Linked DNA regions of Homo sapiens: region 1 is linked to region 2. Evidence: fine-mapped expression QTL. Tissue or cell type: blood mononuclear cells. Region 2 holds a variant in brackets; the other region holds the start of a gene. All regions are shown on one strand. Distances are between the middles of the regions.

Evidence for each region. PIP is the estimated chance that this variant, and not a neighbour inherited with it, causes the effect.
Region 1: it holds the start of MUTYH, and the variant in region 2 is fine-mapped to the expression of MUTYH in blood mononuclear cells (TOPMed, PIP above 0.99). The same link has a PIP of 0.9 or more in nasal epithelium.

The regions. Positions count from the first base shown.
Region 1 is chr1:45,337,769-45,342,915 of GRCh38, forward strand. MUTYH (mutY DNA glycosylase) reads right to left here and starts at 2,202. Exons shown (of 16, transcript NM_001048174.2): 1 at 2,131-2,202. TOE1 (target of EGR1, exonuclease) reads left to right here and starts at 2,402. Exons shown (of 8, transcript NM_025077.4): 1 at 2,402-2,536; 2 at 3,305-3,447; 3 at 3,535-3,575; 4 at 3,705-3,801; 5 at 4,181-4,339; 6 at 4,616-4,875; 7 at 5,075-5,147. The coding sequence starts at 2,485. RefSeq lists enhancers at 1,724-2,391, 2,392-3,060, 2,413-2,762, 3,061-3,727.
Region 2 is chr1:45,381,599-45,386,745 of GRCh38, forward strand. TESK2 (testis associated actin remodelling kinase 2) reads right to left here. Exons shown (of 11, transcript NM_007170.3): 4 at 4,314-4,362. Among named protein-coding and RNA genes, the nearest start is that of TOE1, 44 kb to the left of the region's middle. The variant T/C (reference allele first, on the strand shown) is at 3,049.

The DNA of each region.
Region 1 (5,147 bases), 44 kb before region 2:
AGCCCCCTAATATGTGCCAAGCAGTTTTAGGCACTTGGCATACTTCAGTAAATAAAACATCAAAAGTTCCTGCCCTCAGGGAGCTTATATTCTAATGGGGACAGAAAAGGAATAATGAACATAAGTAAATTCCATAAGATGTTAGGTGATAAATATTAGCATAAAAAGCAAAAATTAGACCAAGAGGGGAAAAAAAAGAGTGCCAAGGTGGGGTTTAATGTTGCAATTTTAAAGACTGTGGTCAAGGTAGACCCAAAGCATTCTAAGTGAGTGCAAAGGCCCCAAGGAGGGTGCCTGGTATGTCTGTGGTACAGTAAGTAGGTCAATGTGGTTAGAATGGAATGAGATGGGACTGAGTGGTAGAAGAGGTCAGAGAAGTAAACCAGATGAGGTGGGGAGAGGAGGGTCACAAAGTACCTTATAGGCCATTGGAGGGATTTGGCTGCCACACCCTTGCTCTTAGAAGGCAGTCCTCTTACTACAGCCTTGCAGGTCCAGTGATCCGGGCACCATCCGCCTCATCCCCTCACTATGCTCTAGCCAAGGTTGACTGAATTTAGTTGCTTAAACACCTCAAGTGTGTCTGCCCACCTTGGGGCCTCACACAATCCATTTCCTCTGTTTGGACTCTTTTATGCTTTTACCTAACACCTTATCATTTTTCAAGTCTTGACTGAAATGTCCAAATCAGGTCCCCTCATCTTATCCTATCACATATTTCTGCCTTGTAGCTCTTACCTAATGTAATTTTACATTACTTTGATTCTTTCCATCAGTGTGTACTTCCTGAATTTGACTGTAAAAAACGACTTGAGTGCAAGGACTGATTCTCTTGTTGATTGGTGTGTGTCCAAAGTCAGTGCCAGGTAAACTGTACACAATAGATACCTGTTAAATGAATTAATGGGATGGGGGATAGTCAAAAGAGTTTCCCTTTTTTAGGATAGGAGAAATCCAAAGAGTTTTTTTATTTTTGTTTTTTTTTTGTTTGTTTGTTTTGTTTTTAGAGACAGTGTGTCCCTCACTTTGCTGCTCTGCCACTCAGGCTGGAGTGCAATAAGAACATGGCTCACTGCAGCCTCGACCTCCTGGGCTCAAGCCATCCTCTCACCTCAGCCTCCTGTAGCTGGGACTACAGGTGCGCACCACCATGCCCAACTAATTTTTAATTTTCTTTTTGTAGAGACAAGGTTTCACTATGTTGCCCAGGCTAGTCTTGAACTCCTAGGGTCAAGCGATCCTCCCACCTTGGCCTCCTAAGATGATTACAGGCCATAAGCCACTGCGCCCGGCCCAAGCAGTTCTGAATAATGATGAAATGGGCTCAGTTGAGAGAAGCTGAAGATTAACTATAAACAATGAGTAACAAAGGAGCACTGGAAGGCAGAGGTGGATGGGAATCGTAGTGTTTACGGAGGGACTAGTCTCCAATAGGAATTTTTTTTTTTTTTTTTTTTTTGAGACGGAGTTTCGCTCTTGTTGCCTAGGCTGAAGTGCAAAATGGCGTGATCTCGGCTCACCGCAACCTCTGCCTCCCAGGTTCAAGCGATTCTCCTGCCTCAGCCTCCCAAGTAGTGGGATTACAGGCGCCCGCACCATACCCAGCTAATTTTTTTTGTACTTTTAGTAGAGACGGGGTTTCACCATGTTGGCCAGGCTGGTTTTGAACTCCGGACCTCAGGTAATCCGCCCGCCTCGGCCTCCCAAAGTGCTGGGATTACAGGCGTGAGCCACCGCGCCCGGCCTAGGAACCTCTTTCAAATTCAATCACCCTCTAGGTCGACTATACCGCCTAGCTGCTTCACAATTTGTCCCTTCCTCGCCATCCATACTGCCAGCCTTAATTCAAGTTCACATTATCACTTGATTGGATTATTACAAAAGCTTCCCTACCAATCGGTCGCTCTTACACCCTGGGCAGCCTCCTCCGATGGCCCACTCCCCGCCTCTTTCACTTTCTGGAGATCACTGAGCTCTCCATCCTCTCTGGGAATTTACCGATGCCCAGAACGCCCTTCTTTCCCCCACACGACCCTCTCCTAGTCTAACTCCTGGGCGTGCTTTAAGCTCAGCTCAGGCAGCGTCACCTTCTCTGGAAAGCCCAAACCCAGCCACCCCACTACCCGCTACCCGCGGCCCACGCTGATGAAGACAGCAGAACACGGAGGCCCCGCGTTCCCGCCGCGAGAGCAGGAGAGAAAGATTACCTCCCGCGAGCTCTAGCGCGCCCGGCTTTCCGGCGCACTCCAGGGGGCGTGGCTCGGGTCCACCCGGGCTGCGAGCCGGCAGCACAGGCCAATAGGCAATTAGCGCGCGCCAGGCTGCCTTCCCCGCGCCGGACCCGGGACGTCTGAACGGAAGTTCGACCCATCGGCGACCCGACGGCGAGACCCCGCCCCATCCCCGACTGCCTGAACCGCGCCAGGAGACGGACCGCAAGTCCAGCGTACCCACAGACGACTCAGGCGGGAGACGAGCGGTGTCATGGCCGCCGACAGTGACGATGGCGCAGTTTCAGCTCCCGCAGCTTCCGACGGTGAGCGGCTTCCCAGAGGTAGCCTTCAAAGCCTCTGCGCTCTGGGAGAGGGGAAGGCCTCGGGCTCATAGTTCTAGAGGCTCCTCAAGCTTCAGAGGACTGCTCCTTCCGCCTGAACTAGCCACGAGGAGACTACAAGTTCCGTTGTACACCGCGGCTCCGGCTGCAAAAGCCTGGAGCGTTGGGAGCATGGGGCTGATGGAGGCATGGCGGGAGATGTAGTCTGGAGCTCATAACGGTTAGTAGTAATAGTTGTGATTCAGTTCAGTGGAGTGGATTGAGCGTTGTGATCCAAAGGAAGGTAGGACGTATTGGGAGCTCTGGTGTGGGGCACTGCCAGGCTCTGGGGCTTACTGGGAGCTGTTGCTTGTGGCGCTGGGGCACCATGAGAACAGTAGTATGGATCCCTGTGGGATATTAAGGGAGCTGAGATCCTCAAGCCCTACAAAATGTTTCCTGCAGGACATGGGAAAAAAGAATCAAAGGTCGTCTAGTCCAACTTTCTCCTCTACAGATTGTGAAAGCGAGGTGGGAAGTAATTTACCCAGGCTCATACAAGCCAGTAGAAGACTCAGGCTTCCTCTCCCCAAATTCAGGGCATTCTCCACTCCAAGGCCTGTGTGTAGAACACGTGGGTTACAAAGGCTTGTGGGAAAAGCTACCAATGGAAACTACCCCCCTTACCACCATCACCGTGGCCTAGCTTGGTGTCTGTTCCCCTGGGCTCTTTCCTTAAGCATGAACATCCATCACCCTCCTAACCCCCAGGTGGTGTCAGCAAAAGCACAACATCTGGGGAGGAGCTAGTAGTCCAGGTTCCCGTAGTGGATGTGCAAAGCAACAACTTCAAGGAGATGTGGCCATCCCTCCTGCTAGCCATAAAGACAGCTAATTTCGTGGCTGTGGACACGGTGAGAGTTGGGAAACAAGGAGGGCAGGTGGTTGTGAAGGGGCTGGTGCTAGAGGCCTGTCACAACTCTCCCTTTACCTACCCACAGGAGCTGAGTGGGCTTGGGGACAGGAAGAGTTTGCTGAACCAGTAAGTATAAGCCCTTTTCTCTTTAGTGCCAGCCCTCAACTGTGGAGTGGGGGGGTCACAGACCTGGGTGGTTTGGGTCCTTCATAAGGCTAACTCCTAGCCACAGCAACCCCCATACCCAACCCCAAGGTGCATTGAGGAACGTTACAAGGCCGTGTGTCATGCTGCCAGGACCCGTTCTATCCTTTCCCTGGGCCTCGCCTGCTTCAAGCGGCAGCCAGACAAGGTATGAGCTGATCTCACCCCAATCCTAGGTGTGGCTGTGGGGTGGAGGGTAGAGAGATTCTAGGGAACATCAGATAGGAAGCATTTCTCTCCCAAATCTTTTTTTTTGACTTGATAGTTTTTTTTTTTTTATTTGAATAGGTTTATGGGGAACAGGTGGTGTTTGGTTAAATGAGTAAGTTCTTTAGTGGCAATTTCTGAGATTTTGGTGCACCTATCACCCAGTGTACACTGTGCCCAATGCGTAGTCTTTTATCCCTCACCTGCCTCCATCCTTTCCCCCCTGAGTCCCCAGAGTCCATTGTATCATTCTTAAGCTTTTGCATCCTCCTAGCTTGGCTCTCTGAAATCTTGATATAGCAGACTTCTCTTTCTCCCAGGGTGAACATTCCTATCTGGCTCAAGTGTTCAATCTCACTCTGCTGTGCATGGAGGAGTATGTCATAGAACCAAAGTCTGTGCAGTTCCTGATACAGCATGGCTTCAACTTCAACCAGCAGTATGCCCAAGGCATCCCCTACCATAAGGGCAATGACAAGGTAGGCCTCTAGCCTCCCTAGCCTTGAGTCTGCCCTTTCTGTGACTTTATTTCTTCCTACCCTAGGCTGGATGTCTGGGGAGAATCTGCTTCTTAGGGAGTATGGGGAATCACTAGTGACAGGGCTTGGGAAACAAGACTGGTATGAGGAGGGTGGGCAGCATTGGGTAAGGTAGAGAGAGAGCGTTCCAAGTGGGGAAGTCTGGGATAAGTGCCCAGCAGAAGAGGCTCCCTGGGGGACTCTGTCCTCCTCATTGACCCCTTTACTTTCATCTAGGGTGATGAGAGCCAGAGCCAGTCAGTACGGACCCTATTCCTGGAGCTAATCCGAGCCCGCCGGCCCCTGGTGCTACACAATGGCCTTATAGACTTGGTGTTCCTGTACCAGAACTTCTATGCACACCTCCCTGAGAGTCTGGGAACCTTCACCGCTGACCTGTGTGAGATGTTCCCAGCAGGCATTTATGACACCAAATATGCTGCTGAGTTTCATGCCCGTTTCGTGGCCTCCTACTTAGAATATGCCTTCCGGAAATGGTGAGGAAATGGTTGAGGGAAAGGGGTGGGGCCTGATACGAGTTTATTTCATTCACTTAAGATATTTATTGAGCTCCTACCATGTGCCCAGGCAGTGTTTTAGGTGCTGAGGATTCAGCAGTGAACAAAACAGACCACAAAACCCTGCTCTTATGGAGCTTATATGCTAGTGGACCATTACCCTCTTGCGCTGTTGCAGTGAACGGGAAAATGGGAAGCAGCGGGCAGCTGGCAGCCCACACCTTACCCTGGAGTTCTGCAACTATCCTTCC
Region 2 (5,147 bases):
ATGCATGAGTGAGCCTGAGATCAGCACAACTGCCAAATCTAGCCCCACTCAGTTCAGCTAACTCTGGAAATGTATGAGAAATAAACGTTTATTGTATGCTTTTGAGGTTTTGTGGCTGGAGGGCAACAGCTAACCAATACACAGAATTATATTTTCTGTTAAAAAAAAAACAAAGATTTACACTTCCCTGATACTTGTGACTAAGTGAAAGACAAGGTTAGGTCTTGTGAATGAAAGACATACTTATGGTACATTCCTATTCTTTTTTTTTTTTTTTTTTTTTTTTAAGAGGTCTCTCTCTGTTGCTCAGGCTGAAGTGCAGTGGTACAATCATGGCTCATTGCATTCTCAACCTTCAACCTCCTGGGCTCAAGCAATCATCCTGTCTCAGCCTCCCAAGTAGCTGAGACTGTAGGTGTGTATCACCACATCTGGCTGATTTTTTTAATTTTTTGTAGAGTCTGGGTCTCACTATGTTGCCAAGGCTGGTTTCAAAATCATGGCCTCAGGCAATCCTTCTGCCTCTACCTCCTAAAAGTGTTGGGATTATAGGCATGAGCCACTGCACCCAGCCTCAATACAGATTCATATTTCAACTCATTAAATTTAAAAGGTTTCATGTGACTTTTCACCAAACCGTTTTCACTATATATTTTTTGAAACAGGGTCTTGCTCTGTCACCAAGGCTGGAATACAGTAGTGCAAGTATGGCTCACTGCAGCCTCAACCTCCTGGGCTCAGGTGATCCTCCTACCTCAGCCTCTCCAATAGCTGGGACTACAGGTGCATGCTACCACACCTGACTAATTTTTGTATTTTTTGTAGAGACAGGCTTTTGCCATGTTGCCCAGGCTGGTCTCAAATTTCTGAGCTCAAGCAATCTGCCCACCTTGGCCTCTGGAAGTGTTGGGATTACAGGCGTGAACTACCATGCCCAGACTATGCTTTCACTTTAACAAATACTAGTTTGCTTAAAAACTTGAGTCAGCTGGCCGGGCGCGGTGGCTCACACCTGTAATCCCAGCACTTTGGGAGGCCAAGGCAGGCGGATCACCTGAGGTCAGGAGTTCAAGACCAGCCTGACCAACATGGAGAAACCCCGTCTCTACTAAAAATACAAAATTAGCCGGTCATGGTGGCGCATGCCTGTAATCCCAGCTACTCAGGAGGCTGAGGCAGGAGAATTGCTTGAATCTGGGAGGTGGATTGCAGTGAGCTGAGATCGGGCCATTGCACTCCAGCCTGGGCAACAAGAGTGAAACTCCGTCCCCCCAAAAAAAAAATCTTTAGTCTATCATTACTACAGGTAGTTTAAAAATAAAAACTAAGTGTCTGACTGTTCCAAGTTCAATTAATGTCTACAATTACAAAGAAGACTCATGGAAATGGTTCAAGCCCAGGAAAGTCCAGATCACTAATGTATATGGGAAATATTCTTCCTAATAATGTCAATGTTTTATAGGTATTAATGAGTGCCATGCTTGTCTACTGTAATTATTGACAAATAAATGTGAAGAGAAATGAAGAATGGTACTCACATTACTTTGGAGGACAAGCATTCCACCAACTGAAAAGTATTTGGTGAATGTCATCTAAGTTTCAAGGACTGTGCTAGATATTTTTAATAATTTATTTTTTATTATCCTTACCATATAGTTGTGCTGCCAAGTCAAATTATAAGGCAATTAAACCTAGAAGTCTCGAAAGACCTATGCCATCAAGGCCTTTGCTGATCCCTTCTAAAAATAACCAAGAGCATTTGGCTATTTGGGCTTCATCACTACCAGTCTATTAACATCATATTAAAAATTACTAATATCATAAGCTATGTCAAAATCTCATTAATGCTGCTGGAAAGACTGGCAATAAATACTCTTCCATAAAGTACACATTGTATGTTTTATATGGCTATAAAGAAGCTAACAAGCAGCAGATTAAGTACAACATGGCCAAGAGAATATTGCATTATGATCACTCATTACTGTCATTTCCACCACAACCTGCTTTAAAATATGCAACTTAACACAGATTTTAAAGGATGTTCTTCTCTGTCGGCAAAATTAACACACCAGCCCTTCCAATGAATTCACATTTCAGAGAACAATCACACATGCAGGGAATGCATCAAATACTTTTATGCTTGTTAGCGTCAGAACTCTGGTAGACAGAAGGAAGGGGAGAATTTTATCTCTGAAGAATTTATAGACTCACTTCCAAGAAAAAAAATACATGGCAAATGTTTCTTGATCTGGGGTGCTGGTTATGGGTGTGTTCATTTGTAAAAATTTTGTGAGTGGTACTTTTCATATGTATACTTTTTCTGATATGTTATACTTCAGTAAAAAGTCTAATTTAATGACACTAACAGCGGTATAGGACTAAGTACAAAATGAAAAATATTAACAATTCAGAGTTCAGAAGAGGGACTAGTCACTGTTATTTTGTTCAAAGAGTTAACATGTATTAAATAATTTATACATGCCAGGCACTGTACTAAATAAGTATTTTATATTTCATCCTCCCAACATCCTTGTGAGGTCAACATTATATCAACAGCATTTGCCACAATTAATACTCCTTCCTTGAAACTCTTTCCTTTTCATTACAGGCCAGCACGTTCTTCTGGTTTTCTACCTACCTCACTAACTGCTCCTTCTCAGTCTGTCCTTCTCCCCAGACTTTCATTCATTCATTCATCTATCTATCTATCGACAGGGTCTCACTCTATGTATGTATGTATGTATGTATGTATGTATGTACGTACGTATCTATCTATCTATCTATCTATCTGTCTATCTATCTATCTATCTATCTATCTATCTATCTATCTATGTATCTAGAGACAGGGTCTCACTCTGTTGCCCAGGCTGGAGTGCAGTGGCACAATCATGGCTCACTATAGCCTCAAACTCCTGGGCTCAAGCAATCTTGCTGCCCCAGACTCCTGAGTAAATAGGACTACAGGTACATGCCATCACATCCAGCTAATTATTAATTTTTTTTTTTTTTTTTTTTTTTTTTTTTTTTTGTAGAGACAGAGCCTTGCTA[T/C]GTTGCCCAGGCTGGTCTCGAAATCCTGGTCTTAGGTAATCCTCTCACCTCAGACTCCCAAATATTCTAGGGCTCAGCTCTTGGTCATCTTCTCTATCTAAACTCCCTGGGGCAGGTATTATTAATTATTATTATCCCCATTATACAGATGGAAACTTTGAGATACAGACAGATTCAAACGTATGTAATCAAGACTTCAGAGGCCATGCTCTTAACCTCTTCACCATTCTGTCTTCTTTGGCTTTCCATTTAAGAGGCAGGGCATAGCTGCACACATTCCACATTCTAGTGCCTTCAGTAACTGAGAAAAGAGAGAGACTGAGGCACATGGGACCCTCTTTCATAAGCTATTAAGGACTAATACCAGTTACCAAGCCAGTAAAAAACCAACACTCTTGCAAATTCTGTTAAACAACTTTCCTTCCTAAGTTTCTTCACTTTGTACTTTGGTAATTGCTTCTCAAGGAGGAATGTGAAAAGAATCTAGAACATAGATTCTCAAATCCAGATGCTCATGAAATAATCTGAGGAGCTTTTAAAAATATAGATGTAATAGGCCCTATACAAACCTATTAAACCTAGAAGATTCCAGGAATCTGTGTTTCCAAGGAGCACCCAAGCAAGGTCTGAAGTTGATAACTTGGTACCTGAATTGGCTCTAAAGAGAGTTCTCTGATCCTCGGAGGATGAATAATGACTATCACATATTCCGCCTAGCAGAGGCTGGAAATGAAACGAGAATGAAGATGTAAACTGATTCCAACAAGTAATAAGACCAACCAGGAAACCACAGCAGGGACTGTGGAATTCTAGATCAGGACAGCAAACATTACCAGGTGGTCTGGTAATTTGTTGCCATAGAGAGTTTGCAGTCAAGTGCTGTCATCCCTTGGCTTAGGATGGAGTCATATCTAGGCAGCAAGAGCTAACTTAATACTTTAATACTTGAGCACTCATATTGTCAGAGTATTCACCAAGTATTATGAGGGAATAGAAGGACATTAAGAAATACTGCCCATTCTGCACATGTACCCCAGAACTTAAAGTGTATGTGTGTGTGTGTGTATATATATATATATATATATATATAAAGAAATACTGCCATTGTTCCCAGGCAACAGAATAAAGCATTATTAACACTGCCATTTTTGCATAAACATAAATGCACATACATTTTGTTTACATATGCAAGCAACACTTACTATGGAACTATAAATGCTGAAACTAAGGCAAATACGTTACTTCAACACTTACTGATGTCTTACCTCTGTAAGTGCATGCAATTGTCCTTGATGAACACATACACCCATGAACCTAAAGAACAAGACAGAATTATTTAACAAGTGAAAAGGACACAAATATAAATTCATATAGAGAAATCAGGTTAGTTACCCATGCATTAGAAACAACCTGTGGGGTGCGGCATGATGGCTTACATCTGTAATCCCCGCACTTTAGGAGGCAGAGGTGTGCGGATCACCTGAGGTCAGGAGTTCAAGACCATCCTGGCCAACATGGTGAAACCACATCTCTATTAAAAATACAAAAATTAGGCAGGTGTGGTGGCATGCGCCTGTAGTCCGAGCTGCTCAGGAGACTGAGGCAGGAGAATCCCTTGAACCTGGAAGGCAGAGGTTGCAGTGAGCTGAGATCGCACCATTGCACTCCAGCCTAGGGGACAAGAGCGAGACTTTGACTCAAAAAAAAAAAAAAAAAAAAGAGACTGCATCTAAAAAAAAAAAAAGGAAAGATAGATAGAAAAGAAAGGAAGGGAAAGGGAAAGGCAAAGAGAAAGGGAAAGGGAAAGGAAAGGAAGAAAGAACCTGTGAAGCCCCCTGCTATCTTGTACAGCCCTGTAGACTCTTAATCTTTTTGTTGTTTTTAATTATTTCAAGAGTTTTAGGGGTACAGGTGGTTTTTGGTTATATGGATTAGTTTTTTTACTGGTGATTTCTGGGATTTTGGAACACCTGTCACCTGAGCATTGTACACTGTACCCCATATGTGGTTTTGTTGCTTTTTTTTTGAGACAGAGTCTCACCCTGTTGCCAAGCTGGAGTACAGTGGCATGATCTTGTCTCACTGCAACCTCCGCCTCC